2 separate regions of the Homo sapiens genome follow, and region 1 is linked to region 2. The links come from fine-mapping of genetic effects on gene expression. A gene starts in region 2. The other region holds a variant in brackets. All regions are shown on one strand. Distances are between the middles of the regions.

What was found. PIP is the estimated chance that this variant, and not a neighbour inherited with it, causes the effect.
Region 1: its variant is the best candidate, but not a certain one, in a credible set for the expression of XPO7 in whole blood (INTERVAL, PIP 0.78).

The regions. Positions count from the first base shown.
Region 1 is chr8:21,992,376-22,008,239 of GRCh38, reverse strand. It overlaps XPO7 (exportin 7), which reads right to left. Exons shown (of 28, transcript NM_015024.5): 20 at 13,789-13,877; 21 at 12,641-12,748; 22 at 9,403-9,485; 23 at 8,935-9,149; 24 at 8,566-8,704; 25 at 5,968-6,128; 26 at 4,923-5,021; 27 at 4,210-4,337; 28 at 1,655-3,245. The coding sequence ends at 3,152. Among named protein-coding and RNA genes, the nearest start is that of NPM2, 24 kb to the left of the region's middle. The variant C/T (reference allele first, on the strand shown) is at 6,480.
Region 2 is chr8:21,910,949-21,926,812 of GRCh38, reverse strand. It overlaps XPO7 (exportin 7), which reads right to left and starts at 7,151. Exons shown (of 28, transcript NM_015024.5): 1 at 7,025-7,151. The coding sequence starts at 7,042. DOK2 (docking protein 2) reads left to right here and starts at 13,123. Exons shown (of 5, transcript NM_003974.4): 1 at 13,123-13,274; 2 at 14,303-14,584; 3 at 14,825-14,912. The coding sequence starts at 13,212. RefSeq lists a silencer at 6,795-7,234 and an enhancer at 15,106-15,205.

The sequences.
Region 1 (15,864 bases), 81 kb before region 2:
CCAATGTTTTAGAGAATGAAAAACTTATTTCTTATGTTGTCACTTGTCATTAGAAAATGGACACTTCTGCCCAAAGTCATTACTTCTTAAAATTTAAAAACTTAAAATTGCAATCTTGGGCCAAATCCCTTCTTCCTTTGTCTGATTTACACATTAGTGGGAATAGATAACCCTTACTTGGGCTGAGCCAACAAAACACATACAAACACAATTTAATAATCTGTAGTAAAGAACGTTTTCAATGTAAGGCACAGTTTGTGTCAGGAAACACTATCTAAAGACACTTGACTTGATGAACACAGTGCCTGGGGAATAAGCCTAGAAATTCCCAAATACACTTTTGTTTTGACTGAATAAAATCTCATGATTTCTGGGGAAACCAAAATCTAAAGATAACCAACTATTACATTTACTAGGTTGAATCATATGAAATTGCTAACTGACCATTTTTGACCAAAAGGTGATTTGGTGCCCCCTCTTTGAATTGTCAGCAAAGGAGGGAACAGCTTCACTGTTTAAAAAGTCTGATGAAGTTGTGGAAGATTTTAACCATGGCAGAGGAGGGAACAGCTTCACTGTTTAAGTCTGATGAAGCTGTGGAAGATTTTAATCATGGCTCCTTGTGATTGGACTACACTCAGGGCTGTAATGAGGAGACCACCATCTTTGGTGAGTTTCTTGCCCAGGGAAGGGAGAGGTCTGGGGTTTTGCTGATTAATCAGCATCTCAAAGCAGTTGGGGGAAAGGGGACTTCTCTTTAAGTATCCATGAGAAAGTTATTTTTGTGTCACCTAACTATAGAATCAGAATTCCAGGTCTCTGGGGCATGTGTCAGAAGTATATGCATATTAATGAAAACTCACCATTTAATATGTTAGGCTTAGAGATGGAATTTAGCTAAGATTAATCAACTCCATTTGCCTTGTAGCCATCAGAATTTTTTTTGCCTTTGAAATAAGTTAGGACTGAGGCAGCTATAGCAGTTCCCAGAAGGCTGAAACTGCAAAGGTAGTGGTACATCTACATAATGCAGACAAGAATGGCACCCTGGCACCCAAGAGTCATGGGATGGAAATCTGCATTAAGGTACACATACCTGTCTGTATCTTAATACTTTTCTGTGTTTCTGGCAATCAAATTTCCTCATACTCAGGTACTCTGAATACACAGTGCAGGCCTTAGAAGTAGTCTCTGTTAACAAGTGTTCCTCTTTTGATAAATCTGGCCTGTGAGGTCTGCAACGTATTCCAGGGGGATAACATTTGCCCCTGAACTTGTCATAGTCTAATGAATGAAACTCAGCCCACATCAGAGAAGCTGATGTCAGAACATTAAAACACTGGGCTTTCTTCAATTGCTACTTGTCTGCCAGTAGCCATGTTATTATCTGAAAGCTAACAGAGAGGTAGAATGGCTTGTGCTTTATAGCTATGGACAATAGCATGTGACTGGTTTTGTTGACAGAGATATATCAATCATATTATACTTTTGAAAGAAACTGAGTCAGACTCTGTGCAATGAGAAACAAGTCAATTTGATCAGGTGAAGGGGCCCCTGTCATTCACGGGCTTTTAAAGAATGTTTCACACAGCTTCATGTGTTTTGAGTGAGACATGTCCTTGGACGCACACTGGACATGATTGCTGAAGCCAGGTCAGTAGAAACCATTGAAGTTTATTGGCGGTCACAATGCTTACACTGTATGCAGCAAACACCCTTACAAGTCTATCCGCAACCTGATCACGCAAGAAAGGATTCATCACACAGTCGCCAGAGGAGAAGGAAAAAAAATTAACAGGCTTGTTTCTGGGGGTAGAGGAAAGAAATAAAAATAAAACCTAATTGATGAGTGTCCCGTGGGCAAGAGCTGAACTAGAGATGTGTACAACTAGCAGCAACAATTGTGGAAAAAGTACAAGGCAAATAGCTGTCTCCATTAATTTTCCTCTGTAGGTTATTATTTTTTTTAATATTCAAAACATTTATTATGGTTTTCATTTTATAAAAATGTATATTTTTTAAGGGATGGGAGAATGTTAAATACTTCATGCTAGGTAGACCTTGTTATTAAGAACCCTTCCACTGTAGTAACTTCCTCCAGTTCATACATTCATGAGTGCAGGGTACATATATAAATATCCACACGCATACATCCACACACACTGCCTCGAGGGCTGGGGAAGACTAAAATTTATTGGCCACACACAGCAGGGCCTCTGGTGGACTCACCCACATTGCTCCCAGGAGAGCAGTGGGCTCACTTCCTTCTCTCTGGTCTCTGCCTTCACACAGACCAAGAACCCTACAACACGTCGTTAAATCCAACTTTTAAAAGCAAGAGGCATCTGTCTGAGGATGAGGGTAAGCAAAGTAGGAAAGAGGGTGGAGATAAGAACACCAAACACTTTTAGCTGGAGTTATTTATCACTGCAAGGGGCTAGGGACCCAGGGCAGAATCTACACGGTCCAAGGGGAGGGACGGTGTTCTGGCATGGCTTAGAGTTCCTAATAACAAGGGTTAATACAGTAACAGGAATTGATCATTTCTGGGTGAGGACAGGGCAATACGAAAAAATATACATTTGGAATTTTAGCTTTTTTTTTGCCTCTCTACTGTGTCACTAAATATATCTCTGCACTCTCACACATCCTTGTCCAGTAAAGCTTCAGGCCACCAGAATACACATTTTCTTCACTCGCATACACAACCCCTCACATCAGCATTGGTGCACTAGACTCTGTAAAAATTTTTCAGTCACACTTTTTGTTTTTAAACTTGAGTCAATATAAACCTTGTTCAAAATGTTATGAAAAAATGTACATGTTTATACAAGGCAGGTTGTGGCAGGACACTAGGGGTTCTCCCCACTTGGGTGGCCCCAGGAGGAGAGGCTGGAGTCTCAGTTTGTATCTCTTATCTCCTCCCACCACCCTTCCCACCCAGTCCCCCAGGAACCAGCAGCGCCCTGCCCCCTAGTGAGTGTACTCACACCCCTATTCCCTGGGGAAGCAGCTAGTTGACCTTTGCCATTTTCCCCACACCCCTGGAGAAAAGAGCCAGGATCAGCCAGGCCCTCTCCCTTGCAATTGTTCGCCCCTCTGGGCCAAACCAAAGGGACGCTGCTCTGTACAGGTAGAGTCCAAGGAGGTGTCAGCTCATCATGTCATTGCTATTCACGCCATAAGTGGAATTCTTCATTGAGTCGTTGACTTCTCGACGGAATGCTGACAGGTTCTGGGTGAACCTGCAGAGAGGATGCATGTGGGTTGGGGGAGGAGAGTGGGGGGGAAAGGTATTTGCCTTTTTTTTTTTTTTTTTTAAAGCATGGGAAGTAGAATGTATGAATTGATGGGTTCTGTTTCAAAGATCAGTTAATTTCAGTCTTAAGACTCTAAGAGAAAAGTTGGCTTAGAGATCTGGTCAAATCTGGGGCCCTGAGGGCTACCTTGGGCTCATGGCAGCACAAAAGAAATCTCACTGACAGAAGTAGGAAGTTGCCCTCACACGTGAGGGCAGTAAGCCAATGAAGCCATCTCATTTCTTAATGCAGCAAGACCAGGTGGTGCAGTGCTATGCTGTCCAATAGGGCGGCTGCTAACCACATATGGCTACCGTGCCCCTGAATTATGGCCAGTGTGACTGAGAACATGAATCCAAATTAAATACAATTTAACATTCAGCTCCCCAACTGCATCTTAATTTTAAATTAAAATGCCTTGTTTTAAATTAATTAAAATTAAATAAAATTTAAAAGTTAATTGCAAAGCCCAGATACTCAATGCAGTTACTGGAAAGTCCCTAGGTGTGTTTGAAACAATCTGGGTATTACAGGAATCTACTTTGTCAACTGTAAATTTATGAAATCTAAATACAGATCAAGTATTTCTGATGAAAACGTATGAACTGAGATATGCTGTTAAATGTAAAGTACACAGGATTTTGGAAATGTAGTACAAAAAGAATGTGAAAACCCACAATTTTAAAATACTGATTACACACTGATACAATATTTTAGATACAATGGGTTAAATAAAATATATTATTAAAATGAATTTTGCCTGTTTAACATGGCTCACTTTTCTATTGCATTGCATTGCTTTAGATGGCCTCCAAACACAGATGTCAAAGACTTTAAAGCAACTGCCTGTTTCGTTGATTTGAAAAATAGCAATTGTCTGAGATTTCTAGGCAGGACGCTTTATACTCACCTGTCTCTGTTTTTCGTAAGAAGATTTCGCTCGATGCCTTCCATCAGGTTCTCAAAACACAGGTGCATGGCCTGCTGCTTCTCCGGTGGCTGGCTGTTCACAATACTGTTTCTTAGGTCAGAAAAATACTGTGGGGCAAGGAGTGGAACAGAAGGTTAGAGAAGCAGGGGAAGGCAGATTAGCCCTCCGTCATCTGCAGGGTTGAAGAATGTTCTTCTCTAAGGAGGAATGGAATGTCTACTAAAATTGGACCCTTAAAAAAGAAATTCAGGCAAGCACTTGTGGGATAATATGGCTTCATCCTACTAAGAATATCAAGAATTTTTAAATTGTAAAGCACTTTAAAAGGGTCATCTTATCCAGACCTTTCTTTTACCAGAATCTCAAGACTTGTTTATAGCAGAGCTAGAACTAGAACTTAGGTCTTAGGTCCTCTGATACCCAGGTACATTATTTCCTTGAAAGGTTTCTCTTACTGCCTAGGGGAAACACTCCTTTATCCTGTGTCTGTGAGCTACCACACATGCTGACTTCTAACAGTTAAATGATTATGTGATACTGAAAGCACAAATGGGACTTGCTCAGTAAATGACCCATTTTCCCTGTTTCACCACCGTGGGGTGTTTCTATACACATTTCTCCCAGGGCTTGGTGATACCAAGTGCGTGGTTGCCACTGCTTCTGGGTTGGCACCAGGGAGCTGGCTCTCTCACCTTTTCATTAAGCAATATCAAGCCAAGTAGTGGTCGGGACATAGACCACTGGTTCCTACAGTCTTCAAAGATGATGATGTTCAGCACCGTGGACAGCATCTGAAAATGGAATGGAGAATTTCAGGCAGTGACCTAATGTATTGCTACCCAAGATAAAACGACAGATTCCAAATACAGGAGTATATTAGGCTGAAGGCCTTTTCTGTATAGGGTAAATCAGACAAATAGTTTGTGAAGCTTCATCTGAGTCTTCTATTTCAAGGTTACCTTTTCTTCTAAGATATTCATTTCCTTTCTTGTTCTTAAAATTGGTTTGAACTTCACTTACCAATGGATCTTTCCAGGTCACCCTGAGTTGTGGGGAATGGGATGGGGTCACGTAAACAAAATTACAGTAAGCAAAACCACCTTGCATGATCCCTTCCAGGTACTCGGAGTTGACAGCTTTATGACATCTTGTGAATGTAATGGAGTCCTGAATTATTTCACTGCTTCTTTAGAGAACGGTGTGGACAAAGGTAAGACTGGCTAAAATCTCAATAATTACTGATCCCATTTCCTTATCTATTTTCATCTAGCATGTATTTCTGTAAGTTACTTCAAGGCACATACAAATAAAATAAGGGCAAGCATATGGTTTGATCTCTCTGTGGCCAGTTATTTCCTTCTGTCTTGCATTCTTCTTCCTGTTTTGTAAACAGGAACACAAGCCTTTAGAAAGCTGGATGCTGCTAACTCCTGCTCTATTTATAGCAGTGGGTGAGCAAAGTAATTTTCACAGAAAGAGGATAGTGATCATGAGACAGGTCCAGGGCATAGGGATCACTGTGACACTCAGAAGAATAATCCAGAACCTGAGCGTTTTCTACATCCAGTGATTACTTGGCAAACTCAAAATCCACTGCAACTTTAAGACACGGACTTCATCTCAGCAGCAGGAACCTGATGAGATGTCATGTTAATCGTGTGTGGGCTCCCCTGTCTTGCAGAGGTCCTTCCTCTGTCGGACACCCCATCACTGCCTCCTAAGCCTCCACTTTCTTACCTGCTGGATCATCTCTGGATGCTGCTGCATGATGTGCAGAAAGCGGTCGCTCTCCTGGTTCAGGGGTGTGGTCCTCTTCTTGGTGCTACGTGACAGCTGCTTGAAGAGGTATGTCACAATGTGGTCCAGGCAGGAGCAGCAGCCTGTGCATACCATGGTGTCTGCAAGAAAGAAAGGCAGGGGTAGGACAGAGCTGCTGATGGTGGCCTGGACAAATATGGACTATCTTTGGGTGAGATCCATTAGGGTACCGTGGCCAATTCAACCAAGGCGGTTGCTCAAGATGACTCCTGTTAACCTCTTAACCTCATTGTACAGTAGGGCTCAATTTCTAAGTTTGAAAGTGAGTATGTGGTAATAAAGAATACTGAAATTATCGGCTCAATGTGTTGTGGATGTACGTACATCTTCTGCCTCACACAAAATAACAAATAGTTTGATTCAGCAAGTGCTTCTTTTGTGCCAGATGTTGTGCTAAGTACTTTATAGGTGTTATCTCTAATTTATCCTCT[C/T]AAGAACTCAGGAATTAGGTTTTCTGTTTTACAAATGAGGAAACCAGAATTAGGAGAGGTTATGTATCGGCCTAAGGATCAACTGCTAGTAATTGCAGGAGCTGTGATTAGAATCCAAGAAGCCTGGGGTATGAGCCTATGCTCTGAGTTACCAGTGGGATGTAATTAAACCCAGAATGACGTAGCCCCTGAATGTTTATGGTTTGTTAGAACACGGTATGCTGTATTATCTGTTTATCTCCAAAGCATCTCTGGGGGGAGCTGCAGACTCATCTATGCGTCTTTACAAAGGGAACAGTACAGCACAACCTGTGGACAGAACTCTGATGAGGTAAGGCCAAAGGACAAAGGGGCTGAACCCTTAAAAGAGTAAACAAGTCTCTGATTCCTACGGGACTGATAGTTTATGCAAACGTCCCTCTACTTGCTTTTTCTTTCTTTTTTTTTTTTTTGATACGGAGTCTCGTTCTGTCGCCCGGGCTGGAGTGCAGAAGTGGCACGATCTCGGCTCACCACAGCTTCTACTTCCCGGGTTCAAGTGATTCTTCTGCCTCAGCCTCCAGAGTAGCTGGGACTACAGGCACACACCACCACGCCGAGCTAATTTTTGTACAGAGACAGGGTTTTGCCATATTGGCCAGGCTGGTCTCGAGCTCCTGACCTTGTGATCTGCCCGCCTCAGCCTCCCAAAGTGCTGGGATGAGCCACCACGCCCGGCCAGGTCCCTGTATTTTCAATAAGACATAAAAAAGTCTTCCAAAGCAAGGGCTGATACCTTGATTGGACTGTACTAGATACGGCTATGCACCCTGATAGACTGATAGAAGTAAATGTGTATCAAAGTCGCACAGAGGCATGGATAATTCACCACAGTTGACAATCCAAAAGTGTATTTGCAACATATCATCACTATTTGGCAGTTGACTTAATCCTCCTACTTATGTTTTGCTCAGCCTAATATAAAAATGTGTTTTATTCTCTGAACACATATACCTACTAAGATTGTTGGGCCAGGCACGGTGGCTCATGCCTGTAATCCCAGTATTTTGGGAGGCCAAGCCAGGCGGATCATGAGGTCAGGAGATTGAGACTATCCTGGCTAACACAGTGAAACTCCGTCTCTACTAAAAATACAAAAAAATTAGCCAGGCATGGTGGCGGGCGCCTATAGTCCCAGCTACTTGGGAGGCTGAGGCAGAAGAATGGCATGAACCCGGGAGGCAGAGGTTGCAGTGAGCTGAGATCGCGCCACTGCACTCCAGCCTGGGCGACAGAGCGACTCCGTCTCAAAAAAAAAAAAAAAAAAATTGTTGGAAGGTAGCCTAGAAACAAAATGGTTGACAGAAACCATATGGACTAGGATGAAAAAACTTATGGAGCTAGCTGCATGAAACCTTTCCCCAGCTTCCACGGCCCTCAGGACAGAATTCAAACAGCCTAATACGGCTTACAGGCGGGCCCCCTTCATGATCTCCAGATTTGCTCCTGCTTATCTCTAAAGCTTCATTTCATTCCTAACTCCTCTGGACTAGTGTGCCAGCCATCTGGATTTCCTGGTTCTTTCTTGCCTACAGGTGCAAGTGCTTGCTGTCTCTGCTGCTAGGAACCCTCCCTGGCTAACCAGGGTAACATCTGTCCAGCTTTTAGGTTTATGCTTTGATGCCAAGTCTTCCAGCCAGTCTTCCTTGATCCTGACTTCCTCACAACCAAGAGTCTAGGTATTCTTGAGGGCTTGTGTAGCACTTTGTACTCACCCCTATTGTAATGTTTAAGTGGTAAGTATGGTAAACAGGCAGTTGTTTGTTCATGTGTCTGTTCTACCCACCAGATAAGCCCCTTAAGGACAGGGACTATATGCTGTTAATTACCGTATCCTCAGTGCTTCCACAGGGCCTTGTACTTAGGAAGGGAATCAGTGAGTGTGTGCTGGATAAGCATGTGCTGTGCATTATATACTCTATTGTTATGGCCAAACCCCCAAGGCAGTGGTGATCTTTTTGGACACTGGGGCAAGATTCTCTCTTTCTGTTTAGTTAAGTGGTAAAAAACAAACCCACCAACTCACCCACCCACCTCAGGTGCTTACCAAGTGCAGTAAGTCCTTCAGAAATGGAAGAGAGAATATACATGATGACGTGAGGTTCCAGGCTTGCAATAAAGTTCATATGGTCCTGGGTCAGGACTTCCAGTAGTGAATAATAAGACTGGCTGAGCTTGGGGTAATCCTGTGGGAGAGGAAGAGGAAGAAAATCAGCTTAGGCACTATGCACTCCAGCATGCAGGGAGACGATCTTAAATAGCTTAGCTCCTTTTAGGTGGGAAAACAGAAGACTTAGTTAGAGCAAAAGGAGCTAGCTTACATAGTTTCTCAAGAGCAGTGTTCAATCTTGGTCTCAGGTGAAAAAGGCTGAATGTGATGAGGAACAAGATTGTGGCAATGCAGCGTAAGGCTTACCAAGAGATCACTGTGAGGAATAGAGAGGAGCAGCTTGATGAAGGTCTGCAGAGCATTGTCCAGGGCATCGTCTCCATAGAGACGAAAGACTCCGAAATTGACGTAACTCCCACTGAGAGCAGCCTTCAGCATGGAGAAGCAGATGGAGATGCCCTTGAGCTTCAGAGCATAGACCTGATCCTTTGGGACCTCTCCTAGTGTCAGGATGCGATTGCCTGAGTAGACATGTCATATATGTTTATTCAACCACATTAGAAGCGCTCGTTTAGATCAGCCTTCCTACTCCAAAGGCATACAAATTCCAGTAGGCCCCTGGTGACAGGTGGCACTCTAATGCACATGTATTAGCATACAATACGAATGCTGTCCTGGCTCCTGCCAGGACTGGCCAGAGACCCACATGCTGCTTACAGTGTGGTGACTGAGCTGGAATTAACTTCTAGAGGCATGATTATCTGAAGCACTTACCATACATTGTTATCATCTTGCTGGTTTCTCGGAAGAGTAAGATGCCATTGGGGGAAGAGACATCAAACTGGAGTCGCTGGGACCTGAGCAGAGAGCACAGGAGGAGAAAAAGTCAGAGGTGTTTTCTTGGAAGACTGGGGTACTTGAGGCTCTCATCTGAGTACCTTGGGTGATCCTGCATTTACATTAAGGTAAGCAATTGCCTATCCTAATATGAGAATAACCAAGTTATAGATATTTAACCATGAAGTAGCTTCTATATTGAAGACCAACATGCTAGATTCAGATTCTGCTGCTCAAATTAAAAACATTTATAAGAAAAAAAAAGCAGCAGTAGATAAAATTACTATTTGAAAATTCTCAATTTTATTTGATTAAAGTATACTTTCTTTTTTTTGAGATGGAGTCTTACTCTGTCGCCCAGGCTAGAGTGCGGTGGCGCAATTTCGGCTCACTGCAACCTCTGCCTCTCGGGTTCACACCATTCTCCTGCTTCAGCCTCCCAAGTAGCTGGGACTACAGGTGCCCGCCACCACGCCCAGCTAATTTTTTGTATTTTTAGTGGAGATGGGATTTCACCATGTTAGCCAGGATGGTCTCGATCTCCTGACCTCGTGATCCGCCCGCCTCAGCCTCCCAAAGTGCTGGGATTACAGGCGTGAGCCACCGTGCCCGGCCTTGATTAAAGTATACTTTCTACCCGTCGCCTCTTGATACTAATGCAGAGCCCTTCAGCCATTAGTTGGCATGGACCTTTATGGCTTCAGTGGCAACTGAGGGAGAGGGGCCAAAGCATTGTTACCATTTTATATGAAGAAAAGATGCATAGGGACTTGGAATGGTCCAAAAGAAGCCAGACAGAGAAGGCCATTTGTAACCATCTTGGTTTTAAGTTCCTGACTCTTTTGTCTGCTCCACATTTTGATGAGCTTTATTAGATTCAAGTTGGTAAGACCTCAAAAGCCCAGGAGTCCTTCCTCCTTCCTCCCCCCCACCACACTGAATCCATCAACATCTAACTCTAAAATAAACCCCAAATCCACCTTTCCCTTACATTCTCTCTGCTTCTACTCTTACCTGCCTTTAGTCCCATTCTTCACATGGTAGCCTTTAAAAAACTTAAATGAGATCATTTTAATCCTTTGCTGAAAACACTCTAGCGGCTTCCCACAGCAATGAGAATAAATGCCCACTCCTCACTACTGCTGTGCGAAGGCACTAGATGATCTGGCTCTGCTCACTGGTCTGACCTGCTCCCACAGCCTCCCCCCACCAACCAGGCTCCTGCCACAAGTCCCAGCAAGCCTGTCCTATCTCAGGACTCGTGCAGATGTTTTCTGTTTAGAAGACTCCTTATCTTTGCAGGGCTACCAGAATCTTTCTTGTCATTTAGATCCTAGTTAATATTACCTTCTCTGAGAGGTCTTCCCTGACCCTCCTGTCCTTCAATTCCCCTCTATTTTACTGCCTTGTTTTATTTTGTTTCATGGCACTTAATCACTGGAAAGATCTTCCATACTTGTTTTTATTGTGTGTCTTCCCCACCATTTGTAACATCAAAGAGGGTAGAGATTTTGTCTGGCATAGTGGCTAGGAAAGTTTGGCAAAGAGTAAGTGCTCTCAAGTATCTATTTTATAAATGAGTAACTCTTGAATATAAGTCTCCTGGGAGGTTATAGCCTCTTTAAATATTACCCACTCCATAAGGTTGTTTTAAAACTTATTAATTCTGCTAGGCCTGGTGGCTCACGCCTGCAATCCCAACACTCTGGGAGGCTGAAGTGGGCGGATCACCTCAAGTCGGGAGTTCAAGACCAGCATGACCAACACGGAGAAACCCCGTCTCTACTAAAAATAGAAAATTAGCCGGGCGTGGTGGCGCATGTCTGTAATCCCAGCTATGTGGGAGGCTGAGGCAGGAGAATCGCTTGAACCCAGGAGGCGTTAAGTTGCAGTGAGCCAAGACTGCGCCACTGTACTTCAGCCTGGCGACAAGAGAGAAACTCCGGATCAAACATAACTAACTAAATAAATAAATAAAATAAAAATAAAGAAAAAAAACCTTACTAATTCTCTCAGGACCGCCATGAGAGACCAATGCCCATACCTGAAATTCTAGGAAAGCTAAGGTGCTAGACTTTTCTTTTTCACTGTCCTTAAATTGTTTTGAAAATCTTGCTCACTTTTTAAAAGTAAATTTTTATTGATCCTGCCACAACCTCTCTAATAAATACCTTTCTTAAGAAAGGGTATTCTAATATCTATCATATCCTTCTCAATGTCTCTAACCATGAAATGTGATGGACAAGGCACCATTACCAGATGTTAATTTCTTATCTGTGGGCAGGAAATCAGAATCTTGGTTGCCAAATTTACTTCTCCTAAGAGTAGACATCTGGAGATTCTTTTTATTTTACTTTTTTGAGACAGGGTCTTGCTCTGTCACCCAGGCTGGAGTGTAATGGCATAATCTTGGCTCACTGCAACCTCTGCCTCCCAGGCTAAAGCAATCTTCCTACCTCAGCCTCCTGAGTAGCTGGGACTACAGTTGTGTGCCACCATGCCCAGCTAATTTTTTGTAGAGGTGGGTTTCACCATGTTGCCCAGGCTGATCTAGAACTACTGCATTCACGCAATCTGCCCACTTCGGCCTCCCAAGAAGCTAGGATTACAGGCATGAGCCACCATGCCCCACTGGAGACTCTTTTTAAAAGTGACTTATTAGATGGGCGCAGTGGCTCACGCCTGTAATCCCAGCACTTTGGGAGGCCGAGGCACGCGGATCACGAGGTCAGGAGATCGAGACCATCCTGGCTAACATGGTGAAACCCTGTCTCTACTAAAAATACAAAAAATCGGCCGGGTGTGGTGGCGGGTGCCTGTAGTCCCAGCTACTCCGGAGGCTGAGGCAGGGGAATGGCGTGAACCCAGGGGGATGGAGCTTGCAGTGAGCCGAGACTGTGCCACTGCACTCCAGCCTGGGAGACAGCAAGACACCGCCTCAAAAAAAACAAGACAAACAAACCAAAAAAAGTGACTTATTTCCTGCAGTTGACTATGGTTTTGTGTAGTTAGGAATACTATTCTTTCACACAAACAAAAACACAAAAACTTTTCGAATTTTAAAATGCAGTAGTGAATCTTATTATTTCCCACAATCTGCCCAAAGCACTAGATACAGCAAATTCTCTCAGATAACAGGGCAGATGTGCCCTTGCAAGCTCTGCCTCCTGCTTACCTATTATGAACCAATTCAGCCATCAACTTGAGTACAGGTGTAGTACAGGCTGGATCATGGTACCAGAGCTCAATTGCCCGTTGGAGAATTGGCATATAGGATGGATATCTGTAAATGAGAAGCTAAGGAAAGATTTCTGATTCCAGAAAGGTACAGAATTTAAAATAGTTTTTCAGCACTAGCCAAGCAAAAACTTGTCAAACTACAGTTCTTTAAGTTCCTGTCTCTTGCTTGCTAATCTTGGAGTCTTTCTAACCAGAAGATACTAAAGTGATTTTGTGTTCTTTAACCTGTGAAAGGCATCTCATAATACATTTTAGTTTACATAGGGCCTTTCTTCTGAAGAGCATGATGTATTTCATACTGTTATTTGTCCTTTCATCACTTCTATGGTATTATATGGGATCAGCTCATTTCCTTTACATAACTATTAAAGAGGCACCTGGATTTGAAATAATCTTCACAAGGGTATGAAGTCAGTAAAGTTAGACTTCCTAATTTGTAAAAGCTGTTTATTATTATTATTATTATTATTTATTTTTTTTTGAGATGGAGTCTCGCTCTGTCGCCCAGGCTGGAGTGCAGTGGCGCGATCTCGGCTCACTGCAAGCTCCGCCTCCTGGGTTCATGCCATTCTCCTGCCTTAGCCTCCCAAGTATCTGGGACTACAAGCGCCCGCCACCACGCCTGGCTAATTTTTTGTATTTTTTAGTACAGACGGGGTTTCACCGTGTTAGCCAGGATGGTCTCGATCTCCTGACCTCGTGATCCGCCCACCTCGGCCTCCCTAAGTGCTGGGATTACAGGCGTGAGCCACCGTGCCTGGCCTTTTTATTTTTTTCAGCAGACTGAAACATCTCTCTAAATATAGCAAAACCAACAGTTCTACAGTGGTATATGGTTCCACAGGCATTTATATTTGAGATCCAAAAGAGAAACTGGGAGACTACTTCATTCATGTTCTAATCTCAGACAACCTTATGTCTGTCATAAGGTGGCTTCCAGGACACATGCAGGCCTTCTGGCTAACTCTTCATCTTCTCTGCCTCACTACCCTCCCTTCCCCCTACACCGTCTCTGGACCCTATCACCCAATCACACTCCAGTTAAGGCAGGCTGTAGTGTGCTCCTAGTTTGAGTTAGGATACATCCATTCAAAGAGCATCATGAAGCTGGTCTTGGCATTGAAAGCGAAAGCGATCCCTCTCAGGTCTCTTACTAGGCCAACTAGAGTTCGCTGTAGTAGAAGGCAAAAATGTGTTAAAATAGAAGAAAAGACAAAACTGTAACAATCTGATGAGGATTCCACACATGTATCATCAAATTCTTTCTCTCACAGTTCAACATATACTCCTTCTCAAATATTCGGATTCAATATCTTCTATGCTAGAATGGCATATTTTCATTCTAGCAGTGGAAGTTTGTTTTGGAAGTTTGAAGTTTGTTAGCTTTGGAAGTTTGTTATGCCAAGAAAATTAGCTTTGGAAGTTTGTTTTGCCAAGAAAATACGTTCCTGGTTCGTAGCAAAAATAGAGGCTGATAAGGTTTTAAGACATTGAAGTAATACATCACATGTAAAAAGTGAAAAAGCTTTGAGTCCACCCAGGGAGGAAAGGAGGGGAGGGAGGGGGAGAGAGGGTGGGGGGCGGAGAGAGAGACAGAGAGAGAGAGAGAGAGAGAGAGACACGGCAAAGAAACCAACTCAAAAAGCCAGAAAAAAGCAAAAAAGAAAAACAGAAGTCCCAAAGAAGAAGAGGTAGAAGAGCCATATATACCCTAAAGGAAGTCAGATGCAGGCCCTGCCAGGAGGAAGACAAAGGGGAGTCTACACAGCACCTCTCTCTTTGGGTGGGCCATCTAGATAAGACTATGTTTAATCAGTACTCTCCATTTGCAGAAAAAGAGACTGAGGCTTAAAGAGGCCAAAAAACTTCCCCCAGTCATGTTGCTAGGTAGCAGGAGGGTCCAGATCAGGACTCATACATAATACCAAGACTCCAAATCCAATACTCACTCTCTCAATAAAACTTTTACTTGGGACATGAACAGCAATAAAACTACTATAAAAATCATAGTTTGGGGGTTGTCTCCAAACGTGGAGACAGAACAACAACAACAACAAAATGTGCTCAAGAAGGTTGTACATTTGGGGATCTTGACACGTTTGGCAAAAACGACATCACTTCTGTTAACAGTCTGCTTGTAAGCAAACAGTTCTCTCCTAAGCTGATACCACAAGCTCAGTTTTCCAGTCTAAGACTTGGTCAGTCTCTTAAAAGACTTTACATGGGACATGACAAAGAAGTGGGTGACAGCTGTAGTCCATTACCAAGGTTGTTCTTTTGGTTAATTTTACTTGCTTTACATGAAACTAATACCATATAATGGGAAAAAGGGCTGATATTCACTGATATCCCTAAATCCTTGATATTGGTTGATACTCTAGCCTAAAGTTGGTAATATGTTCCACAATAACCCAAGCTTTGAATGGTACCTATCTCAGACTCTAAAATACAAGTATAATTAGGGGAGAGAGGGTTGCATTAAGTGTTGTTGCTTTCTGTCTACCCTGCTGATTTGTAGATGGAAAAAGAAAAGGCTAAAGATGAAAAAGGAGAGCTTTAGAATGCTAGGTAAAGCCTGGCATTTTTTTCTGGCAATACCCTGGCTAGCTGGTAGTTCTACCATTCAGCCTTGGTGCCCTGAGGAATACTGTAAAAAGTCCTACCAATAGTAACATCCTGGTGTCTTCTGATTTGGACACAGATCTATACAGGTCAAGAGAACAGTATGTATGAAGTAAAAAGATGAAGAAAGCAACAATCAAGAAATGACAATTCTAAGAGCTAGAAAACAAGAACTTAAAATTCCATATATGTGGAAATTCACTGGGCATCGTGTCTCGTGCCTATAATCCTAGCCACGTGGGAAGCTGGGGCAGGAGGACTGCTTGAGCCAGGAGTTCAAGGCTTGCAGTGAGCTAGGATCATGCCATTGTACTCCAGCCTGGGCAAGAGAGTCAGACTCTGTCTCTAAAAAAAATCAAAAATAAAAACCCATATATGTGGAAATTCTTAAACCTTTCTAAGTGACTCAAGTGTCAAAGAAGAAATCTCAATGGAAATTAGAAATCACAAAAAACTGAATAATGAAAATGTTCCATATTAAAATTATGGATTCTGAAGATCTATTTCACAACAATGTAGAAACTTGACATCACTGAA
Region 2 (15,864 bases):
TTTGTGGCTATATATTGGGCAAAATTTAGATTTTTTTTCAACTGAGATGTATAGATTTTATCAATACATCAACAGATGTATTGATATGTGAAATATACATCAGGTTTCCCAGATCTTTTTCAGAGCAAACTTTATGTTTCAAGTTCTTACAGTTAAGTTAAATTTCATGACTAATTTTAGACAACGTCTTTTTGGAAGACAGAAGTAAAGCACTGAAGTTCAGGAGTTAGCAGAGGTGAATGAGGTTAAAAAAAAAACAAGCTTTGAAATAATTTTTGCCAAACTCATGACATATGCTTTCAAAACTTTGCAAACAATTTTAAATAGAATTGGAAAAAATCCTAAGAAAACCCTTCATTTCCCTTTTCTAGCCTTAAATACACCCCTTTAAACCATAAATTGACTCAAACTTTAGGGCAAATGTCTAGCAAAACTCTCAGTTCTTTCTGAGACTGCACATTGTAAATATCATAATTTCTTATCATGCAAAGTACCAATGAGATCAGCATGTGTCCAACTCAAGTTCATATATTTAAAAGCTAAAAGGCCACTACAGTTATAAGATTACAATTTCCTGAAGTAGTACAAGGGATATTTTAATAATCTGCTTGTTTTCAGAGGAACATTGTTTTCCAGAGGAAAATATTTTGATTTTTTTTTTCATCTAACTAATGTTTTTCTAAGAGAGGTTTAAAACCCAGGGGCTTTTAAGTGAGAATCATTTCTCAGCCTACCGGCATCAACATTTGACTAATAATGTTAATTTCTTGTCCCATAAGAAATATCTTTCACTGCTTATTGTCCAACTAAGAGACCTCTTTCGTTACTGTTTGGGGCATAAGAGAGCTCAATTTGTGAGAAGTGCTACAGATGACTAGATCTTACAGAAAAAAACTCTGGGAGTTTAAGAAATTAGGCGTAAAGAAGAGGAAGATATATTTAAGATAGATAAAATGGAAATGTTGGTTTGAGCATAAATATTTTAAGGAATTTTACAAACATGTACATATGAATTGAGAACACGGTGCTATATTGGGGAGAGAATACAAGGATGACAACTGGAAATCCCATCCAGAATGCTTGAAGTACAAGGGACTTCACAGATCACTTAATCCAGGCTCAGAGACCAAACGAGTTTCCCAATTAAATGGCATAACACTATAAAAGGCTTAGCATGGTGCCTGGCATATAACAGACACTCAGTTAATACTGGTATCCCCCTTTCCCTATGACCAACCAAGTCACACTCCAGTAAGTCTTACAATAACCACCACCATGAACATCATCTAAATCTTCCAACAGCGAGTTCTCCAGTCTTCCAGGGATACCAGGTCTTTTAATCAGCTTATTTCAAGGAAAATTCTATTACTATTATCTCTATACCGATGTTACATTGCTGCGGTGAGCATTAAATGATATCAATTAATGCTAGCATGAAGTTTCCAATTCTGCCTTCTCTTAAATACATCCTTCCCATTTTATGGCAGTAGGAGTGTGTGTGTGTCCTTGTGTGCATGCACACATGTGCGAAGGGGTGAACAGCCATTGAAGCAAATATCAGAAATACTTAGGATCTAGGTTTTTTACAACTCTCTCCCTCCCCCAAGATTTTGATATGCCTCCTGGGTACCAATCCCATTCCATTGAGAATTTCCTAGTAATGAGTCACTATAAATGTTAGGAATGAATGTATTCCAGACATGTATTGGAATGGGGGAAAAGATAACGGGGTAGTGACTGCCCCCCATTCAGGGACATGTCGACAAAACCAGTCTCACTACAAATTCACAACTCAATGACCAGGCTTGTTGTGATGCTCAATTCAATGTAAGGCCCTGGAAGTAGAATATCACATCTTGTATTTCCTTCTATGTGTCTGCACAGTAACAAAAATGGGATATTAGTAGATGCTTAAGTGGTCACCATTAATCATCCTCAAGAATTTATTTCAATATTTAAAAATTCAGCTTGCATGTAACTCTCCAGGAACATTTATCGTGGTCCTGAACTTGCTTTTCAAATAAGTCAAAAGAGAAATACTTGTAAATCAGTTTCTCAATAAAATGTTGTGAGCATTTTCATCTAAAAAGAAACATATATTTAAACTCTAGTTATCAAGGTTCATGAATGGCCTAAAATTGTGGGTAAAATTTTGTGTAGGCACACTCTCCCCACCCCCACCAGAGAGCAGTAACATAGCTTCCATCATATTATGAAATAAATCCCCCCAAAGCTGTATAATCACTGCTCTGTACTGCTTCTCCCCCTGGCTTTGAAGCTAAAACTCTCAGGTTACTCAGCTTGAGTTCTAAAAGCAGATTTAAAAATAAAATGACAGGATAGTAGTTAGTGGGGTGGGGGGGGGAGGGGGGCTACAGGTAGCTGTTGAGATGGTATCAGGGGACTTCTGGGGCACCGATAATACTGACTTGATTTGGGTGCTGGTTAGTAAGGAGTATTCACTTTGTGAAAATTCATCAAGCTGAACACATATGATTTCTGTACCTGTCTGCAGGTATATATTTCAATAAAAAGTTTTTGAAAAAAATAACAAAGATGGGTCACTTATACACAGCATATATCATTACAGAATTTAATGAAGTCCTTAAAAATGATGCACTAGGAGAGGCCCATTGGTAAAGAACTGCAGCCTCCAGACAACAGCCAGTGAGGAACTGAGGCCTGACCAGGCCCGCTGTGTGTAAACCTAAAGAAAATTCTCTATCCTCAAGTCAAGCCCTGAGATTGACTGCAGCCCGGAGCCCCAGCTGAGAGTTTGACTGCAAATGAGACCCTGAACCAAAACCATCTAGTTAAGCCACTCCCAGATTCCTAACCCTGAGAAAATGTGAGATAATGTTAGGTGTTTTAAAAAGATGCAGTTTCAAAACACTATCTTCCTTGCACATACTGAAGTGGGCAAAGTAGCCTCAGTAGTTGTACCTACAGAGAGACATTAGCTTATTGGTTTAAACTGGCAACTTTCCCACCTCGAAAGGCTGTGGTACAATATTGCTTTCAAAACCCAACCAAGAAAAAAGAAAATACAGCTGGTGGTTATGAACATCAATTTCTGGGTCAAATGGAAGCTAATTTCTCTGTAAGATATAGAACAGGGATCTTCCTGATACTTCTTTCTATACCTTCATCTAAATTAGAGATTCTTCCATCACTGTACTGTATTTTGTTTTTTCTGTGTTAAGTGTTTGAATGATCCCACACGTATATATACATCCCTTAATTTTTCTCAAGGCTTCTCAGGAAATATACTAAAGTCAGAGTAATCAAGTAAATATATAGATATATATGTTTTAAATACAGACATTTCCAGTGTGGTGTTGAATAGGAGTAAAATAATGAAATAAAATACACACATATTATTTGTATAAACCCACGAAAGAGGTATAATCAGGGTGGGAGTGGGTGATGGGATATAGTTATTGCTTATCACCCAACACAGATGTAGCATGTTTTGAAATCAATGTATTCTTTCTTGTATCTACGTGTGTGCTCCTGAAGCCTGCCAAAAGAGCATCAGAATTGGATATTTCAGCAGTCTGGCTCCAGTGTCTTTCTCATTCTGAATCCTCTGAAGTGCCCAGCACAGAAAGGGCCTTGCACACACTAAGCATTCTGGTATTAGTCGAACTGGAAAAAAGTTAGAAAAGTTATGTTTTTTCCATTTAAAATTCTCAAAAGTTGTACGGAACTCCCTTTTCAAAATGGACTACCCATAGCACTTATCATTTCCTTGCATATTGTTAAAAGCTGAAAAAACAACCATCACTTTTGCTATAATCAGGCCGACTTTTTGCACCCTGCTAAAATTTAACCTGACAAGTTGTAATGATTCTTCACAACTCCCTGGAGTTACACTGGTAGTCAATATTTAATTACTGTGCCTGGAATTTAAAACAAACTATGACTACTTTGCAAATAGTACATTCTCCTAGTACAGTCATAATGCAAAGCCCAGTAAATAATAAGACCCAACACAACAACGTAGTAATTCCAGCAAAATCCTGGAATCAGTCTTCATTTCCATTATTTATGGTAAAACTAATATAATTCATATTAAATAGCATATTCGATATATAAATCATATTCTTTCCTTCCTTTTCCTCTCGAGCTCCTGAACACCAGCTAGCACTATTAAAACTAACATCTGATCCTTCTTAATCTTCTTCATCACCACTGTTCACTGAGCGTTGTCTTCATCTCTTTGCGATAACTTACCAGCTTTAGATATGTTAAAAAAAACATGAAAGGAAGGGCAACTAAACATAATTAAACACACATAAGTAAGTTTGATTTTTTTCTCCCACGCAAAGCTTTGTAACCACCCTGCCTTCAGGGTGAAAGTTAGATAAGGTTATCTAAGACCAAGAGTAAGAAACCCATCACATCGAGGAGCTGCTTAAGGGCACACTTCTACAGACACTTGCCTGTAACATCAACAGAGCTAAAGGGCAATCCAAATATTATAATTTTCCCATTACTAAAGTTTTATAGCACTTAAAATCGTCCATAAAATACATATCCTTAGAAGAGAGATATCCAAGACATCAGCCTGAGAGAACCCGAGAATCATATGACACTCAGCCTCAATTATGAAAAAACTGCTCACCCTGGTGGTTCAGAAAAGCACTAGATAACATAATGACTCGACTATTTAGTTCAACAAATGCAACTCTCCAATAATCAGTCATGAATCTGTAGCAGACACCTTTATAAACTTCACGTTTGATTAGTGTTATAAGAAAAATATCCCCGCCACCCTCCCCTCAATGCATTGCAGACTGTCTTTAATGAATCCTTTATTTACTCATTATACCTAGGGAAGCGTGTATCTTTTTCATAAGAAGGTTTTCTGCCACAATAAAGTACCACCTTAACATCTGTGAGTGCCCAATACTATTAACACTTAGTGGTCTGACAAAGAAAAGCAGTATGTCCCATTCTCTCTAAAGGGAAAAAAATTCACTCACAAACTTACCCCGTTGATATGAAGACCACTAAGCACTAATTTAGACCAACAGATTGCAGCTCTTAAAAGTAAATAAAGGGTACCAATAAAACACTGATCAACATGCTCCCCTTTGTTTTGAAAAGTTAATAAATTCTTACTTCCGTAGATTTTTGAGTGGTGAGTGGGAGAACAACATCTTACTAAAAATAAGACAGACCTTCGTTGGAGCGACAAATGCTGTGAAGATTGCTTTGATGCATCCTGACTTTCACAGGAATGACAACCTTTATGCTTCGAAAATGTGGGAGATCACATTAAGAGATATTTCTTTACGGGAAACAGCAAATAGCACGATGTATATTCATAAAAGTACTGACTCCCTCTGCATTCCGAAGCATGGTTCACAAAGGCTATCTATTCAAAGCCTGTTCTAGAATGCTCATAGACATCCCCCCAACCCCCAGTAAGGAAGCGCACTGGACCCAAACTCCAAAGACTTTGGGACACTTAGACTTACCTTAACCAAATCTCATTATCATTCTTGTGCTTTGGTTTTTGTTCCTTTAAATGACAGAAGTAATTCCTGCCTGAGTCTTGTAAGATCCAAGAATTTTTAAAAATCACATAAAATATTTCATGCTTCTTAGAAATGACTGCTATAAAACGCAAGGTGCTATACTATTATTATTATCATTATTATCATCTCCTTGTATCAACTTTTACTGTCACTTCTGAATTAAGCCAAGGTACTGGCTTTGAAACACAAATCCCGTGGTTTTCCACCTGTGATTACGTTTCTTGCTATAATTCTGTCCTGACAACTTGTCCCGCACACTCCGAAGATCTACTTTACTGATCTCTGGCCTGAAAATTAAGTCTTTTATTTAGTCCCTTCTCTCCAAAGAAAGGGGCAGAAGTCACACCACTCCAGATTCTTGTAGACGTATTAAGAATGAGATCATTCTTCTTACTTGAGGAATGATGCCACAGAATATAAAGGCGACACTTCTTGCCCTCTAATCTTTCCTTGCCACAACACAAAACCTGTGCACTTGGTTACCTAGAAAATTGGAAGGTTCCCCACAATGGATGTGCATCAATAACTGTCATAAAAATATCAGATCTCTGGCACAGACAGGAAAAACTTTATCTAGTTTGCAAGAAATTAAACCCTGCAGTCCTCCATCTGCTACTGGGTTTGGTATGGGCTGTCCCTTTCTAGGGCCTGTGCCTGTCTTTGAGGAGAGTGGCCTGGCCCCACAGCACGCTAGGAGCAGCTCTTGAGCCGGATCAAGACCCTCCCGAGCAACGTCTGCACCCAACCCTGCATCTCTCATTTCAGACACACCCCCCTCCACCCCGTGTTTCATAGGAGGTGTGGGCGCTCAACTCCTTCACTGTGGCTAGGGGGACGCGAGGGGAGGCGGGCCGAGGCCTGAGCACCCATTTTGGAAGACCGGGGAGCTCGGCCCTCCGGGCTGTACGATTTGGAGTGTCGGAGGGAAGGGCGCATCCGTGGGAGGGGGAAGGAGGCCGGGGTTGCTGGGGGGTCTCTCGTATTCCGGGGCGTGAGAGGAAGGCGGCGGGAAAGACTCCGGAGAGCGAGGTTTATCAGCGCGAGGTTTCCTTTTTGTTATCTGCTGAGGGATGGCGGGCGTCATGGGGGCGTCCCCCTCAGTAAAGTCAGCAAGGGGGTCCCCCTCGCTTCACCGGGGGGCGGGCGGGGGGGCCCGAGGACTTGACGGAGGCCTCCCCCGGGGACGAAGACAGTGACTGACGAACGTTGTGGGCTGCGCGCGCCGGGATGCCCGTTCCTGTCCCTGCAGCCCCGCGCGCGAGGTGTGGGACCGGGTGGGAGGGGACGGAGAAGGCCCCCGGCCCGGGAGGCGGGAAAGGCCCCGGGGCTCCGGGACGGGCGGCGGCTCCAGAGCCCCGAGTGGCGGCGGCGCGGGCCTGCCGAGTCCCGAGCCGGCTGGCGCCCTGTGGGCCGTGTGCACCCCCGACTCCACTCGCCGCTCTTCGTGGTCGCCCCCTCCCCCCCGCGGCTCCTCTCACCTGCACATGATCCGCCATTTTGCTCCATTCATGCTCCTCTCCGGCCCCCCCTCCCCCCCAGCGCGCACCTCGGCCGGAGCCGCTGCCGCCGCCGCCGCCGACGCCGTCGCCGCTGCGCCTGCGCGCTGGGGACTCGTCGCGCTGCGCTCGTGGCGTAGCGCCGCTCAGCTGCGCAGGCCCCGGCGGCCCGGGCCGTGGTTGGAGAATGCGCAGCACCGCTGGGACGGCGTAAAGGCGCGGGCAACGTCAGCGGCCCGGAGACGCCGGGTGGGAGGAAGGAGCGGGCCGGGGGAGCGCGAAGGAGGGGCAGCTGGGGGAACAAAGCTTTGTTTACATGGTTTTTAAAGGGGCCGCGCTCGCTCCGGCAGGCGGGCGCTGGAGTGGGAGTTGGCGCTGCCTTCTGCTCGTTTGCGTGGTGAGGGCTCCTGGATGGGGGCCGAGGTCTGTCGCCGCCCCGGGACCCCTGCACCCAGTGGCTTCCTCTCTTCCCAACCGTCTTCCCCCTTGACTCGCCCCTGGACGTCTCCCACCCCCACCCCCACCCCACCCTGCAGCTACGGGGACCCCCCACACCCCACCTAGGCTGCCTGCGAGATTCCTTACTTTCCAATGCCCTCTACTCAACGGGGGCCGATTCTGTGCTTGTGTCTGTCTAGCTTTCTGGACCAGGGCCATCGCTCTCTGGTCTGGATTTCACCAGCAACCCCAGTGGTTGATCTCGTGTTTTTCATTTCTGTCCTTTCGTCCTTGATAAACATTCATGGAAATAACCACCGAATGGTGGTGATGATCAAAACATACGAAGGCACAGTTCTGGCTTCCCAAAGACATTGTCCTCGTTGCCAATACTCTAGACTGCCTCCCGAGAGGGTCAGATGCTGGAAGAGGCAGCGGGGCTGGTGGTTAGGACCCCTAGGCTCGGTCTTGTGGAGGTATGAGTGGGAAAGCCATCTCTCTGGGTCAGATAAGGTCAGCCCCTGCATGCTGAGGCCAATTCCAGTCTTCCTCACTAGGAATTATCTGTTAGATAATGCCGGTTCCTGTTTTCCATTGGATTCCACTGTGGCTTCCTTTTAAGGCCCCCAGGTTAGATCATAGCTGGATTCTGAGAGCACTGATTGTTTGAAGTTTGTATTTACAGGGGACTACCATCATATGCAAATGATGGTGGTAGTGAATTACACACCCTTGGTGGATGTAGTGGACCGGTGCTCAGCATTCATTTCGACTTCCGTCCTCCTAGTAGGTCTTCCTGGTTTGCAGAGGTAGGGCACCTGGAAACTACATTACCCAAACTTCCTTGCAGCTAGGGTTCTGTATGCAAATTAGGCTCTGCCAATTAGGCTGACTCAGAGAAGATTTAAGAGGCAGAAGATTTAAGTGGCAGAGCTTTTGACTGTTAACTTCTAGCGAGCATAGACCTTTTCAGATGTTGGGTTTTTGTTTTTCCCCAAAACCTCCCAGCGTCCAATCATTAGCTCCGAGCGTATAAAGAGGCGGGGTGATGGGGTCAGTGGCTTTCTGAACCTGGCATCGGGCAATGAAATATTCTCAGAGTCACAATTGCAATGGAAATTCTTTGGATTCCCTACTGGACTGAATAGAGGTAACAGTTTCACAGTGGGCCAGGCCCAAATTTCTGTCCACCCTCCCTTCCCCCACCCCCGCACCCCAACCTCCCCGTGTTTCTCCCTGTGTCTTCCCTTCCTCAGTAAATGGTACCACCATTCATCCAGTTGCTCCTAATAAACACTCAGGAGTTGGTTCTTCAAGTCTTATCAGTCCCCAACATGCAAGTCACCTGCAAGTCCTGTTCAATCTATATCTAATATATACCCAATATGACCACTTCTCCATCCATCTCCACTGTTAACACCTTGGTCCAAGCCACCATTACCTTTCTCCTGTGCTCTGGTAATAGATTCCTAATTAGTTTCCCTGCTTCCTGTCTTGCCCCTTGATAACCCATTTTCCATATAGCTGGACGCTGCAGAACATTATTTTATTTATTTGTTATTTTTTGAGACAGAGTCTTGCTCTGTTGCCGAGGCTGGAGTGCAATGGCGCCATCTCTGCTCACTGCAACCTCCGCCTCCCTGGTTCAAGCGATTCTCTTGCCTTAGCCTCCCAAGTAGCTGAGATTACATGCGCCCACCACCATACCTGGCTAATTTTTGGATTTTTAGTAGAGACAGGGTTTCACCACGTTGGCCAAGCTGGTCTGGAACTGCTGACCTCAGGTTATCCACTCGCCTCTGCCTCCCAAAGTGCTGGGATTACAGGTGTGAGCCACTGCGCCTGGCCAGAACATTCCTTTAAAATCATAATTCAGATAATTTACACTCCTACTTAAAATCCTTAAGTGGCCTCATGTTGCATTTAGAATTCGAATCTTTGCTGTGGCTCAAGAGGTCGTATGAGCTGACCTCACTCTACCATGCCCCCTCTGGCTCAATGCTCTGTGGTCATTCTGGCCTTGCAGTTCTGCAAAGCCAGGATCTCCTGCCTCAGGGCCTTTGCACTTGCAGTAACTTCTGCCTGGATTGGTTTCCCTTCAGATCGTGAAATGGCTGGCTCACTCTCCTCATGGACTTTTCAGCTCACTTGTCACCTCTCAGAGAGCCTTTTCTCACCACCCTCTTGAAAGTTGTCCCCTGTGCCTATCACTATCACAGCATTGATCACTGTCCAAAACTACATATTATTACTCTTTCATTATCAGTCCCTCCAACTAAAAGCAGACATAGTATAAACAAGGATTCTGTCTATGTTGTATCCCTAGTACCTCTGCACAGAGTAGATGCTCAGTAAATAATTGTTGAGGCGGGGCATGGTGGCTCACACCTTTAATCCCAGCACTTTGGGAGGCTGAGGGGGGTGGATCACCTGAGGTCAGGAGTTTGAGAGCAGCCTGGCCAACATGGTGAAACCCCGTCTATACTAAAAATACAAAAAATTAGCCAGGCATGGTGGTGTGCGCCTGTAATCCCAGCTACTCAGGAGGCTGAGGCAGGAGAATGGCTGGAACCCAGGAGACGGAGGTTGCAGTGAGCCGAGATCGTGCCACTGCATTACAGCCTGGACAACAGAGTAAGACTCCATCTCAAAAAATAAATAAAAATAAATTTAAAAAACTGTTGAATGTATTAACTTCTTTATGTCTCATTCTAGGGTGCATGTGGGTTTCATATGAAGACATAAAGCATTCTAAATATTATGTCACTGTTAGGTAACATGTTATGTTATGTTATGTTATGTTATGTTATGTTATGTTATGTTATGTTATGTTATAGGCCCTTCCTCTCAGCGGGTTTCTAGAACTGGGTTCTCTCTTTCCTTAGTACTGAGAAAAGTGATAGACTTAATGGAGAAAGGGTGGGGGGCTACAAATGAAGCTCAAGAGACTGGCATTGTCCCCCTCCCACACCCCACAGTCAGGGACCACTGGGGGTGGAAGGGGCAGGGATGGGGTCCTTCAGAATACACGCTCACTAATTCTTTCGCTCAGTCCTTCACCCGTCTCAGGCCCACATCAGTTCTCTGCCTATCCTATACGTACTTACCTGTTGTGTGCCCAGAACTACCCCTTAGCTAGCTTCCCTACCTGCACATCATTTGAGGGTTACCTAATCCCCAAGCCGGCCCAAGGAGTCAGACACAGTCTCCTCTCCTCCTTCCTTTGTTGCCCCAAAGACAAGGTCCCAGCCCTCTTATGTTAGGATTGGGTTGCTAATCACTGCAGCAGAATAGTAATGAAAATTTCTTGGAGCTGTGGTTCCTGACTCCTGCTGAGAGAAACTGTTGTAAGGGACAGGATCCCAGTGGCTTAGAATGAGCCACAGGTGGGGTTTGGAGTGCCTTTTCCTTTCCCGTAAAAACAAAGACAAGCCAAGAGGCACCCTCAACTCCTTTACAGTGCTTTTTCTACACATCATTGGTGCCTGTGGACCCTAAGGGCTTCTCATTCTGTGCGCTTCTGCTGTGTCTTGGAGCAATGTCTCTGGGCTCCTGTTTACAGGGTTTCCCCATGGCTAGGCAGAAGGTACTGGGGTTAGTGCTTCTACATCAGGGTCGCCACAAATCCTGCTAGGGACAGTTGAAGGGGCCTAGAAGGACTGCAAGGGTGTTGCTCTTGGTATATACTCTGCTGCCCTATCTTCTGCAGTCAACGGCTACCGGAGAACTCCTCCAGCTTCCATAAGCAAGGGATGACAAGGGAGTGTCTGGATTGCCTGGGGTTCAGGCCTCCGGGTTTAAACAACTTTCAAGTAATCTGGTAAACTTGGGTGCCCCCCTGTGGTTCTGAGTGGAATGTGTCCATTTTGCCTTCAGGGAAGGCGATCAGGTTAGCAGGGGACATCCTCTGTCACCTTGCTACTCAGTGTGCTTTGACCCACCCACCACCGGCAGCATCTCAGGGCTCATTCCAGACCTACTTTATTGGAGTCTACTTTGAACAAGATCTACATGTTACAGTTTGGAAGGCACTGCTCTGGCAGCCCCTAAGATGGCCATAAAGCCCTCCTCTTCTCACTCCCTGCACCAAAGACCATGCAGCTCCCAGGCAGAGTTGACTCTCCTTAGGGACTAAAGAGGAAGATTAGGTCACATCCCATTTCCATACCCCTAACCACTTCCCAAGGTGTGCTTTTCCCAAAACAGTATGCTTGGTTCTCCCTTGAGCTTTGGATCAACCTCTTCAAACCCAGGCATCACGGCTGAGGGCAGTGAGTTTGAAGTGACTCATCCTTGTCCTCACAGAGCTCATGACATTCATTTTTTTCAAGCTTATTTGGTCCAGTCCATGGCATGTACAGCAGAAGGCCTAAGCTGTGCACGGTGCTGCTCGCTCCTTGCCACGGTAACTGAACCCCTGTTGTAGAGGAAATGGGCCTGTTTATATAAGCACCTGTTATGGGATTAACCCCAAGAGTGTTGGTCTGAGTCTCAGTTTTTTCCAACCCTTCTGCACTGTGCCTCCATACAGATTGCTTCTCTAAACCATCTGGCTTTAAGTTAAACTTCTCTGAGCAGCTTGGATTTCCCCACAGCAATGGATCTTTTTGCATGGATCTGGATTCCATTTAGGGGCCCTGCAAAATGTTGAATTAAAGATCAGGAGCCCTGGTCTCTACTTCTTCCTCTGCCCCCAACTACCTCTGTGACCTCAGGCAAGTTGCAAATAAGTGTGTTCATACCTGCCCTGCCTTTGTCAAAGGATGGCGTGGCTGATGAAAAGTGTGTGCCTAGAAGCTTTGCGAGCTACGAAGCACTTTCGGTAACTCTGAACCATTTTCAAAATGTATATGAAAGTGATTGCTATTGAAACTTAAGATAATTTGCAGATGAAACCTAAGCATCTTTCTAATGCTCAGGAATGCTTGCAAGAAGGCAAAAATCCAACAGTTGAGATGTACTTGGGGAGTCAGTCCCTTCTCCAGAGGGGATGATCATCTTTCTAGAATCTTTACAGGGTTGGTGTGAGTGTGTGTTGTTGGCAGACAGGGAGTGCTCGCATGTAGTTAAACGGTTGCCTCTCTCTCTCTCTCTCTCTCTGTGTGTGTGTGTTTGTGAAACTGGTATCTGGTTAGGCCCACATGAGCTGTCTTATGTGTCTCTCTGTGCAGTGCCGTGTGTGTCATTCAGCTGTTAAGCGTTGAGAGACCTGGGTTCTGGTTTGGTGACCTTGAATAAATCCCTCAGACTTTCCAAGCCTGTTTCCTTATTTGTAACTTAGTGGTTTGTCCCTTCCAACTTGCGTACAGCTTGGAGGGGGGGGCCTTCACTACTGATTTCACTGTCTAGTTTGGTTTCTGGGTCTCTGTTCCAGTGGGCCAGCCACTCTTTGCTGGCGCCTCCCTGTGCCAACTTCTGTACCTGAATTGTTGCTCACTGAAGAGCTGGCATTTAGCTTTTTGGAAATTGTCTCTAACTCACTGGAAATGCAGGAAGCTTGAGTATAAAACTCACTCAGAAAAAAAAAAAAAAAAGAAAAAAAAGAACACACACTCAGAAGAAACCGCAGGGCCTATCAGCCTGTCGTCATCGAGCAGACTAGAATAGTATAGAAAACCCTAGGCAGAGAGGAAATGAACTTCAGAGAAGGGAAACACACGGCTAAGAAGAGAGAGGCAAGGGCAGGAGTGAAGGAGAGAGCTGAAGCCTGGGGCTCCGAGATGGTCAGAGGATGGGAGACGGGGCAGTGAAACAAGGCTTCTTGTATCTTCAGCAGCAGCAGACGTTTGGAAAGGTAGGAGTGAGGCTGGGCTGGGGTTGGGCAGGGGGCCTGGGAGGCTGCTAGAATTCCTGGGTTGGAGAGGGAGTTTCATATTCAAAACCCTTATAGGTCTGACTGTGCACCCACCAAGTTAGACCCAGAGCTCAACTTTGGGAGGGCTCTTTTCCTACCCGACGCTGTCTCCTGAACCAGGCCCCAACCAGGTCCCAAACTGTGCTCCTTACTGAGGGCTGTTTGCCCTGGGTGGGGGTGGGGGATGTGCTGCTTTCATCTCTTGCCTCTTTTGCTCTCTTGCTCTATGTTGACTTCTTTTCACCGGACACCTTGGAAGGGAATGGAAGGGGCAGCTGGAGGGACAGTTTAGGATGACAATAGAGGTTCCTTCCCAACCCCAGTGGGGTGCATGTGGCTGGTGTTCAGCTTGGGCTGGGGCCTCTGGGGGCCTGGACCCCAGCCGGCTGTCCATCCTCTTTCCCCTTCCCTGGCCTCCTTGAACCAGGAAGTCCTCGTCCCCTAACCAACACTGGGGGGCACACCTGTCTCTCTCTCATGGCCCAACCTATCAAGGAATGAGGCAGCAAGGTTCAGGAGGGTGGAGAGAAGTTCTCCTTCAGGATTTCGCACAGAAGGAGAATGAGGTCTCCAGCCCGGGTCACACGCCGCCCTCCTCACTCCCTCCTCTGGGCCTCGGCCACTGCCCCGCTTTCCTCCCCAGACTGGAGTCCACTGCGGTGGGCCTGTTTGGCCTTCTTGCAGCCTGCTTTGGGCTCATCCCGGCGTTGCTTTCTGCCTGGGCAGTCTCTGCTCTTGCTCGTGGGCCTCCTTCTCGGGGCTGGCGGCTGATCTCCGATTTTCTAATTCCTGCAGTCACTGTCCTCTTCTCTGCCTCCCTGGGTCTCATGTGATCTTCACCTCTCTCTCCCCATCTCCAAGTGGCTGCCCCAGTCCCCCTCCCACGGTTCCTCTTCTCCCCTTGGCTCACGATCTCCCCGTCTCTGGGTGGCTCCCTCCCGCCCCCGCCTCCCACGCCTCTGGCACAGAAATGGCGCCGCTTCGGCGCCTCACTGTATGGAGGGTCGGACTGCGCCTTGGCCCGGCTGGAGCTGCAGGAGGGCCCGGAGAAGCCTCGTCGGTGTGAGGCTGCCCGGAAGGTCATCCGCCTCAGTGACTGCCTGCGGGTGGCCGAGGCCGGCGGAGAGGCCAGCAGCCCCCGGGACACCAGTGCCTTCTTCCTGGAGACCAAGGAGCGCCTGTACCTCCTGGCGGCCCCTGCAGCGGAGCGCGGCGACTGGGTGCAGGCCATCTGCCTCCTGGCCTTCCCCGTGAGTCGCGCGGGGTGCGGAAAGGGCAAGGGGGCGTGCAGGCCGAGGGTGTTAGATACTTCCTGTGGGCAAGTGTTACAGGTGTCAAGGTCAGGGTGATGGGGTGCTTCCTCCATGTGGGGGGACCCGAACCCAGTGTGCAGACAGAGCCAGCAGGTTGAGGTGGCCTGAAAGAAGGCCTGGGCCAGAGGGGGGCCTGGGGATCGGGGAAGGTGATGAGACGGGGCGCCTCCTCCCTAGGGGCAGAGGAAGGAGCTCTCGGGGCCAGAGGGAAAGCAGAGCCGGCCCTGCATGGAGGAAAATGAATTGTACAGCAGCGCAGTCACAGGTGAGGGGGCGGGGGCTGCCCTGCTCTCCCCTGGGGGCTCTCCCCAGGGTGAGGTGGAGAGGAGGTGTGGGCTGGCTAGCTGCTGGCCCCGAGTCTTCCTGCCTTGTGGTTATCCCCAGCCTGGGCCAGCCCCGTTATCAGCCTCTCCTTCTCGCTTCCGGGTGCAGCCCAACGTAGGGAGCCTACCCTGCCTTGAGTCTCTCCCTTGGTTCACCTCATCTTACCTAGGGCCTGCTGGTGGGAGAGGGGAAGGCTGGGGGCCCAGGTGAGGGTGCTGCTTTTTTCTATTTTTGAGACGGAGTTTTGCTCTTGTCGCTCAGGCTGGAGTGCAATGGCACAATCTCGGCTCACTGCAACCGCCGCTTCCCGGGTTCAAGCGATTCTCCTGCCTCAGCCTCCTGAGCAGCTGGGATTACAGGCGTCGGCCACCACGCCTGGCTAATTTTTTGTATTTTTAGTAGAGTCGGGGTTTCACCATGTTGGCCAGGCTGGTCTCAAACTCCTGACATCAGGTGATCCACCTGCCTCAGCCTCCCAAAGTGTTGGGATTACAGGCATGAGCCACTGCGCCTGGCCCCAGGTGTTGCTTTTGAGGAGCTGGTGGAGGGAGGAGAAACTTTCATCTGCCTTCCATCTAAGCTTCACCCCCAGGGCCCCGGCAGTGGGAGGGCAGGGCCAAGGCTTCACCTGCAGCTGTGACCGTAGGGACTAGGGTGGTGGCTGGTTTGGGGTGAGAGATGGGGTGGGGAAGACAAGACTGTGGCTCTGGCGACAGGGGCAGGAAGGATGTGGGCACGAGGTTGGGGTGGATGTGGGTAGGGGCGTGATGCCTACTAGGGTAGGGGGTGGAGGTACCTGGCCTTTTGGGGAGTATGACCTGGCACAGAGCAGCTCAGCCTCCAAGACCCAGGCAGGGGGCCATAAGTGTGTGGATAATACTTTCTAGAAAAGT